3 separate regions of the Homo sapiens genome follow, and all the other regions are reported to be linked to region 2. Evidence: microRNA targets listed by miRTarBase, many of them from high-throughput screens and not tested one by one. Region 2 holds a microRNA gene; each other region holds the end of a gene's coding sequence.
What was found. Region 2 holds the annotated microRNA hsa-miR-548c-3p (CAAAAAUCUCAAUUACUUUUGC, at 1,075-1,096, shown strand). A microRNA usually pairs through its seed, bases 2 to 8, with sites in the 3' UTR of a target mRNA and lowers its output. Matches are read on the target gene's strand: a 7mer-m8 pairs with bases 2 to 8, a 7mer-A1 pairs with bases 2 to 7 and ends in A, and an 8mer does both.

Region 1 (3,036 bases), not on the chromosome of region 2:
TTCTGATCTGTGGACTTTGCTAAAGTAGTTTCATCCCAATGTACAGGAAATACAGGAAATTATAATCAGCCCACACATCAAAAATGATAGTATACCCGTTAGCTTCTTCAATACTAACATATATAGCTTCATGGTAGCATGTATAAAAATGTTCAGCAGTACCAACTGCCAAACCAGTGTCAGTGGATAGTACAGTCAGTCCTAAAGAGGCAGCACCCCATTAAAAGAAAGTTGCATCTATTTTGCTCAGTTGTAGCCAAGTGAACCCATGCTACCAATTTCAGATAGAATTGTTTTAAGCTTATTTAAGAAAAACAACAGCCTATTATCAAAAAGTAAATTACTGTTTGAGGCTACTTCAACCTGAATGGAGTCTTTCAGTGTTGGTGCTGGGTTTTCATGCTAGAGGTTAAAATTTTAATCTACTTAAGTAAAAATTTTTTTGCATACCCAATTAAAGACATAAGGCATACACTGACATTCAACATATTCCAAACAATATGGCAACCATCTGACTTTTTAGTCACACAGTTAACGTCATCTTTACAAACACCCAACCAGTTCAGTCAATTTGGCAATTTTGGAGGAAAAGGTCAGTATGATGGTTTCATTGACAATCTGGCAAAAACACTAAAATGGTTGAACCAATGATCTATCTACTTTACAACCATCCCTATTAGTGATTTAAGCAAATATATGTTCATCAACCATTATGTATCAACCAGCAAGTCAAATATAAAGAAGTGAAATAAAATTTGATGACATAAATGTTTTAGTTCCATTTCCTTCATATTAAATAACAAAAGCATCACTGTGATTGGTATTCTTCTAAATGCTAGTGCCTAAATGAAGTTTGACCAAAAACATATTGAAAGGCTGAGTACTGTGTGGTTACCATATTTTTATTATAACCAGTATTGTATTCTGCTCATTAAACTTTCAAGAGCAATATAAAAAGGAAAACATTTTCTTTAAAAATAAAGAACTATAAATAATCCCACCAGCAGAAAGTTTTTATTTTCAAATATAAATTGTGTATCTTTATTTTTAAAGTATTTGTTACTATGTTCACTTTCAAAACACTATACTGAGCAAAGAGCAGCTTTCCTTTAAAAAAAAAAAAAAAGCAACAAACTTTCCTGAAAAGGGGCCTTTACCAACTGTTAATGGAGGTAGGGTTTTTAAAAATACAGTAATTAGAGCCACAAAATATATTCCAAACCAAATACTAGAGCAGAAGTAGAGCATATTCAAATGAAAACAACAACAGATTCCTACAGTTTTCACAGAGAATGAATCTTTTTTCTTATGGGTACCTAGGTTTTCCAGTTAAATAAATTATCTATCACAGGTTTACTGACTCAATTGAAAGCAATTAACTGTAAAATTTGTTACATTGCACTGATTGGCCAAAACACAATGTAACTAATAAACATGGTGGCTGTTAAGAAAACCCACAGAACTCATTCCAAAAAAGATTTTCATTTCCCCCTTTTGTTTTTCTGGCAGAAGAAAAGCAAAGCTCCCCCAAGAATTTGCTCATACAAGTGAAAATAAAATAAAGCAGCTTAAAATGGATACAATGCACCTTGAAATTTATTTCCAAGACCAAGAACCTGAAGTGAAGCATTTTAAGAAATGAAAGCAATGTGAATCCAAATCAAGTGGGAAAAACAAATTCAGCTACTTTGTAAAAGCTGTTCTTCGCAGCGTAGCAGTAATTTTGATTAAATAAAATCATATCAACTTACACTAATTTTCTATTCTTTTCCAAAACTTCCCTTACTCTCAAAAGAAAAAGTGCATCTAAACCCCAGCAATTCCCGGCTCCATCAACTTTTCTTATCTCTTTTGAGCCATTTCTCAATTTTCCAAGTAGATTCAACTTGTTACTGTAAGGAAAAAGGGACTTCTAAAGTAAACCATTCTTTCATTCACCTGAAAAAAGTATCCAAATTATAAAAATCTGAAATAATTTATCAAATTTAGAATTTAAATAAAAACAAAAGTTTGCTTGCAAAGGCCTTAAAGAAAAGGAAAAGATAGCATGCATTCAAAAACTAGAGATGAAGACAAATATACTTATCTACACAGGCACTGGCAGACAAAATTTAATTGTTACCTTTACTCATTGTAAGACATACCCACCCTACATTTTTTTCATTCACTAATCACTGAGGTACCAATATTCAAGAATGGAAAATTTAATATTGAAAAAATAAAACCTAAAACTGAAGCGTCTCCCTCACCCACTTCAGAAAACTAGGGCAGGTTTTGTGTGAAATGTTAGTATACTTAAAGACTTTTACAATCCACATTGGCTTTTTTAAGGAACAAAAATTATGTTCCACTTACTGGTTCTGTGATAAAATGATCACTGTGTAAATAACATTGTCAGCAGACTTTGCAAATGAACACATAAATCTTGGCTATCAACTGGCACATCTTGTTGGTACCAAAAGAACTCCTGAAGTTTAAAACAATCTTTTAATTCAGAACAAATGTGCCATGCCAAAGTGCAACAAATATTGTGCGACACTCAATGAGACACTGACAGGTAAGAGCTGCATGGAAATTACTAAATCCACCTGCAAAGCAATTCTGTACAAATTGCATTGCATGCAAAGGTCGATTCTGTGCGGATGATAGTTGTTCCTTGATGTCAGTTTCTCAACGCAGCCACAGTTTAAGTCGCAGTGCATCAACTCCATTTAAATAGTATCTGAACAGCCTCTTATCTCGAACAAAACCAAGATTTTCATAAAGTTTCAAAGCGGACTTATTTGTTATTTCGGTTTCCAAAACAACCTTCAAAGAAATGAGAAAAAAACTAAGTTATAATTACACAATTTAAAAAATAATTTACCAACTAAACAATTTTTTAAAAAATCATACATTATTTTAAAAATTGATAGTGAAAACAATAAATAATATACAGAAAGAACTCAAAAACAGTCATCAAGATTGTAATATTATATTTGGGTCAAGGGCTTGGAGGACCACTGCAGATTTATCTTCTGTTCTACTGATTTGTGT
Region 2 (3,041 bases):
AAGATGGAGTTTCGGTCATGTTGCCCAGGCTGGAGAGCAATGGTGCGAACTTGGCTCACTGCAACCTCCGCCTCCCAGGTTCAAGTGATTCTCCTGCTTCATCCTCCCAAGTAGCTGGGATTATGGGCATGCGCCACTATGCGCGGCTAATTTTTGTATTTTTAGTAGAGACAGGATTGATCAGGCTGGATGGTCTCGAACTCCTGATCTCCGGTAATCTACCCGCCTGGGCCTCCCAAAGTGCTGGGATTATAGGCGTGAGCCACCGTGCCCGGCCCAGGCATTTTGAAATACTTCAGAATGTGTTTCAGGCTGACATCACTGAAACTCAGAAAAATACTTATTACTCCTGTAGTTACAACATGGGAAAGGCATTGCTAAGAAAGCATCACCATAAATAAACCCGTGGGATTCAGAAGGTGGGGAGTTGGGTGATGTGTTTTCTACTAACCATGTGTTTTAAAAAAAAGGGTGACTAGAAGTTCCTGTTTATCTTTGAATTTCAATAAATTTAGGGCTTGTTTTCCAACCACTCTGGTAGAATTTAGAAGAACCTAACTTATTTATTTTTATCTTTTTGACAGTCTTGCTCTGTCACCAGGCTGGAGTGCAGTGGCGCGATCTTGGCTCACTGCAATCTCTGCCTCCCAGATTCAAGCTATTTTCCTGCCTCAGCCTCCTGAGTAGTTGGGATTACAGGCATGCACCACCATGTCCAGCTATTTTTTTTTTTTTTTTTGTATTTTTAGTAGAGTCAGGGTTTCACCATGTTGGTCAGGCTGGTGTCAAACTCCTGAGCTCGTTATCCGCCTGCCTTGGCCTCCCAAAGTGTTGGGATTACAGGTGTGAGCCACCGTGCCTGGCCAGTCCTAACTTATTTTGTAAGTATACTAGGTATTGAAAAAAGGATGGTAGGACAAACTGCTGGAAACCTTACCCACCAAAGATAATTTATACTGTTTACTTATAGGCTTACTGTCTTTTGTTGAAAAATTGCGATGAGAAAGGAATCGGCATTGGCATCTATTAGGTTGGTGCAAAAGTAATTGCGGTTTTTGCCATTACTTTCAGTAGCAAAAATCTCAATTACTTTTGCACCAACTTAATACTTTCAGGCTTGTTGAAGCCTAAGTAGAAAATTGTTGCTTAATCTCTTTTATTCTGATTAACTCCTACTTTAAATTTTTTCTTTCAGAATCTTTTTATCAAGTGAATCTTTTAAAAAGATGTGAAGAGTTACTTCTGACTTTATGATTGATAGATTATGAGCCCTCCTTAATCCCCAATTTCTTAATTCAAACAAGCTTACTGTGAAAATTTTCTTTTTTCTTTCTTTTTTTTTTTGAGATGGAGTCTTGCTCTGTTGCCCAGGCTGTAGTACAGTGGCACGATCTTGGCTCACTGCAACCTCCATCTCCTGAGTTCAAGTGATTCTTCAGTCTCAGCCTCCCCAGTAGCTGGGAATACAGGCGCATACCACCATGCCCAGCTAATTTTTGTATTTTTAGTAGAGACGGGGTTTCACCATGTTGGTCAGGCTGGTCTCGAACCCCTGACCTCAGGTGATCCGCCTGCCTCGGCCTCCCTGAGTGCTGAGATTATAAGCATGAGCCACCGCGCCCGGCCACCGTGAAAATTTTCTACAAATGCTTGTTTCGAGGAATCTTTTTTGATATTTTGCCAGCAAAGTCATAGGAGCAAAATTTTTTTAAATGAAAATAGAAAACAACATAGTTAAATATATCACGTAGGAGGAAAAGTACCAGTACCAAAATTAACTTTAGCATTTCTTAGTGTTTTACAGTTAACAGGGCATTCCAAGGGAATTAAAATTCAGTTGATTTTATTGGACTTTAATTTCAGAGGAACTCTGAGATGAGAAATTTAACTAGCACGTTTATCCGTTTAGGCCTTAAGCAGATGCAGGTTTCATGACATGCCAGAGGTAAATTTAGGGGTACTTGACTGTAGTGAGTAATTTCCCAGCTATGGGAAAATGTAAATATTATGTAGATGGTATAAAGAAACAATATTACGTTTGTCCATTTAAGGTCTGTTTCTGTTTGTTCAGACAGGCTTGTGGATTGCTTTTCTTGCCAGTGTTCCTTTAGGTGGAAGGTACAGCCCTTTCAGATATTTCAGAATTTTATTTTCTTTTATTTTTTTGAGATGGAGTCTCACTCTGTCACCCAGGCTGGAGTGCAGTGGCACGATCTCGGCTCACTGCAGCTTCTGCTTCCCAGGTTCAAGAAATTCTCATGCCTCAGCTTCCCGAGTAGCTGGGATTGCCAGCACCCGCCACCATGCCTGGCTAATTTTTATTTTTATTTTTTTAGTAGAGAGAGAGTTTCACCGTGTTGGCCAGACTGGCCTCAAACTTCTGGCCTCAACCGATCTGCCCGCCTCTGCCTCCCAAAGTGTTGGGATTACAGGGGTGAGCCACCATGTCCGGCCATATTTCTGTTTTAGAATTGCTTTCTTGCTTTTCCTCTGACCAGATTTGGTCACGTGAAACTGTCAATTAGCATGAATGAGGTGCTGCTGCCATGCAGGGGTTTGATCCTTGGCTGTCATGTTGATGGTCTCTGTATCCAAATTAGTATTTGTGAAATTTGGGGGAAGAGAATTTGGGCTTATTGTGTAGCGGAACGAGTACGTTTCATAAAGGCAAACCTAGCACCGATATCAACAAATCCACTTACAATCCATTCCTAAAGGAGGAAGCTCTGTTACAGTTTTAAAATTAACATTACAATGCATCTTGCTTGTTTGAGGTGAGGGCTTAAAACTCAGTAATGAAAAAGAGGGAGAACTATAGGCTAAAAGGGTGTGTGTTCTTAATTGATTAATTGCAAGCAGCTATGTAGGGCACCCTGTGTTTAAATCAGTGCTAGCTGTATTATCTTGAGCAAGTCATTGTACCTCTTTGTTTTTTTAATTTATTTTTATTTTTTACATTTTTAAGAGACAGGGTCTCACTATGTTGCTCAGTTTGGTCTTGAACTCCTGGGCTCAAGTGATCCTCCTGCCTTGGCCTCCCA
Region 3 (3,036 bases), not on the chromosome of region 2:
AAATGGGCATAAAATGTCTAACATATCATTATGTAGAATGTGAATTGCATAAACTGTAGCAGGTTCCAAACCTCATTGGGTTGTTGCAAAGTATTTTTTCCTTGAGTCTGTAGGATTCCTAGTGATTCCTTGGGCCACTCCGTAGCCTTTTCTCAATGTATTCAATTTTCAGTCATCACTCAGTTTGATTCTGTTACCTAATGAAGGTATAAAGGTTTCCCACTGGAGGTATAGGAAGCATTTTGTGGGGTGGGGTCAGGTTGTGGGTTCTGTGTACTGTGTGACTGTGTTACGAGCATGACTTTTGTCCTTAGGCTGGCTAGCTCCTTTCTGGTGTCACTGCTGTGTTAACAGTCGAGGATCTGCCTATAATCCAAGCACTTTAGGAGGCCCAGGCGGAAGGATCCCTTGAGCTCGAGACCAGGCTGGGCAACATAGTGAGACCTCATCAATACTAAAATTCAAAAAAATTAGCCATGCATGGTGGTGCACACCTGTAGTCCCACCTACTTGAGAGGCTAAGGTGGGAGGATCACTTGAGCCCAAGAAGTCGAGGCTGCAGGGGCACTGATGCTGCCACTGCACTCCGGCCTGGGTAACAGAGATCCTATCTCAAGAACAAATGAACAAACAAAACTGTTGATCTTGCCCCGCCTCACCAAAAGGCAAAACAGTAATGCTTTTTTTTGAGATGGAGTCTTGCTCTGTCGCCCAGGCTGGAGTGCAGTGGTGTGATCTTGGCTCACTGCAAGCTCCGCCTCCTGGGTTCACACCATTCTCCTGCCTCAGCCTCCCGAGTAGCTGGGACTACAGGTGCCTGCCACCACGCCCAGCTAATTTTTTTGTAATTAATTTTAGTAGAGATGGGGTTTCACCATGTTAGCCAGGATGGTCTCAATCTCCTGACCTCGTGATCCACCTGCCTCGGCCTTCCAAAGTGCTGGGATTACAGGCGTGAGCCACCGCGCCAGCTACAGTAATGCTTTCTGAGGTACCACCTCTTAAGAGGTTTGCTGTCAGCCTCTCTCTCTCTTCCTGTGATCATAAAGGCTCATTTGCTAGAGACTTGAGCATCGATCATCGTTCCAGATGGCCCACTGGTTGCAGATGCAGGTTCACTTGGTAATGGGTACCAAAATCTTGTTTATAGGCCGCGTCTTTGGGCTTCACAGTGAGTGAATGTCTAGTCCATGGCAATCCCAGGGTGAGTTCCTGGCTCTGAGTAGGAAATGGAACTCACTGGGCAGTTCCTCTCATGAATCAGTAATTTTCTTAAAAATAAAGACATAGAACACTGCAGAAAATAACAGCTTTATTGCTACAGATGTGAGAGCATTTACAAAATGCCAAGGAAAACCATTCCGTTTTGAGTCTCTGGAGCCTGAACTCTCACCATGTACCAGAAAAGAATGCCCCTCTTTCGAACTTTCAAACAGTTGGGATTATTTTTGTTTCTTATCATCCCAATTATTTGCTCAAGTTTGCCTCCATTGGGCCCCGTTCAGAGTTTCTTGGGCTGCTTGTACTAGTCACAGCTCCACTTCCATCTCTTCTCAGGAAGAGGTGGGCACAAGACACATCTGAGCCCCTTAGTATTGTGATGGTGGCCAGGAAATGATCAAAGGGTAGCATTTAGGAAATCAGCAAACTAAAGCCTCAAATCAAAGGTGGACAAATGCATTCTCAACTCAAACAGGTTGGGTAATGCTTTCATAAGATACATTATGTTTTTGTGTACACAGCACACAAATTTTATTATGTCTACAAACAGATTCAGGAAAGACCTCCAGGCTATTTCCCCAAATGATTGACAAAGTGCAAAACAAAACAAAAAAGAGGAGAGCACAAATGAATAGCCCACTTAGAAGCTGAATAGAAAGAATGGGAAGCCATTTCGTTTCATAAAATCTTTTAATTTTTGGCCAGGCATGGTGGCTTACGCCTATAATCCCAGCACTTCGGGAGGCCGAGGCGGGTGGATCCCCTGAGGTCAGGAGTTTGAGACCAGCCTGACCAACAAGGTGAAACCTCATCTCTACTAAAAATAAATTAGCCGGGCATGGTGGCAAGTGACTATAGTCCCAGCTACTTGGGAGGCTGACATAGGAGAATTGCTTGAACCAGGGAGATGGAGGTTGCAGTGACCACTGTACTCCAGCCTGGGCAACAGAGCAATATTCCATCTCAAAAAAAAAAATCTTTTAATTTTTATAATTAACTTTTATCATGCAGCCCAACATGTCATCTTTTCATAAAATCTTAGTAGAGGTGCACTCCAGGGATGATCTGGCCCTCAGTCAAGGGCTGACTTTTCCTGTAGCTATGCTGACCACAGCAGGTTACTAAAAGCTGATTGTTAACGGAGGAAACAGTGGCTGCTTGTATCCTAGGTCTTCTGATAGAAGCAGCAGTTCCACAGTCACTAAAGGTATTGTTCACAATGCACCTCAGCAACATGGGCCAATGATAGCGTATGTTTTAGAACTTATCCATTGGAAGGACATATTTAATACAAACCAGAAATTCATTAAATTACTGGCCACTTAAAACATATAGAAGAGGACTGTCCCAATAGAAAGGGCTCACAATCTGAGCTGGCCTTTTACAATGGCAAATAGTATTACAGTAACATTGCAAACAAACAAATATGAAAAAAAAAGTAGTATATCATTATTAAACACCTTTTACGTAAGATTTTCAGAAAACCCAGGGATAGATTTTATATCACAGAATGGTCCATATCGTCCAAAAATATCTTTTGATTGGACAGTAAAATAGTATCTGTTGGAAGCTAAAAACTGAGATAAAGTACAGGCCATGGGGAGTGGTAAAGCTTTAATTTCTCCAATCTTCTTCCAAATCAACTTATTATTAGAGTTCTCATGACACAGGAAGAGGTGGTAGCTTTCTACAGGAGCACACTTGGGATTGATTTTGGTTATATTCCAAGTCAGGGCAATGCCATTGGGTCTGAAAACCCGTTTCACTTTGAGCTCAGGCTTCTGGGGAGGAAGTGTGTCTCGGGTTTTGTCTACT

Region 1: miRTarBase lists NAA30 as a target of hsa-miR-548c-3p. Seed matches in the 3' UTR shown: 8mer at 1,960-1,967, 7mer-A1 at 1,183-1,189, 7mer-A1 at 973-979, 7mer-A1 at 432-438 and 7mer-A1 at 144-150.
Region 3: miRTarBase lists ATF7IP2 as a target of hsa-miR-548c-3p. Seed matches in the 3' UTR shown: 7mer-m8 at 2,193-2,199 and 7mer-A1 at 2,040-2,046.

Annotation. Positions count from the first base shown.
Region 1 is chr14:57,409,151-57,412,186 of GRCh38, reverse strand. It overlaps NAA30 (N-alpha-acetyltransferase 30, NatC catalytic subunit), which reads right to left. Exons shown (of 5, transcript NM_001011713.3): 5 at 1-2,808. The coding sequence ends at 2,671. Among named protein-coding and RNA genes, the nearest start is that of NAA30, 20 kb to the right of the region's middle.
Region 2 is chr12:64,621,495-64,624,535 of GRCh38, forward strand. MIR548C (microRNA 548c) reads left to right here and starts at 1,015; the gene lies at 1,015-1,111. The region is part of intron 1 of RASSF3 (Ras association domain family member 3); the gene reads left to right. MIR548Z (microRNA 548z) reads right to left here and starts at 1,111; the gene lies at 1,015-1,111. RefSeq lists an enhancer at 1-96.
Region 3 is chr16:10,481,898-10,484,933 of GRCh38, reverse strand. ATF7IP2 (activating transcription factor 7 interacting protein 2) reads right to left here. Exons shown (of 14, transcript NM_001393719.1): 14 at 1,296-3,036. The coding sequence ends at 2,685. Among named protein-coding and RNA genes, the nearest start is that of LINC01290, 45 kb to the left of the region's middle.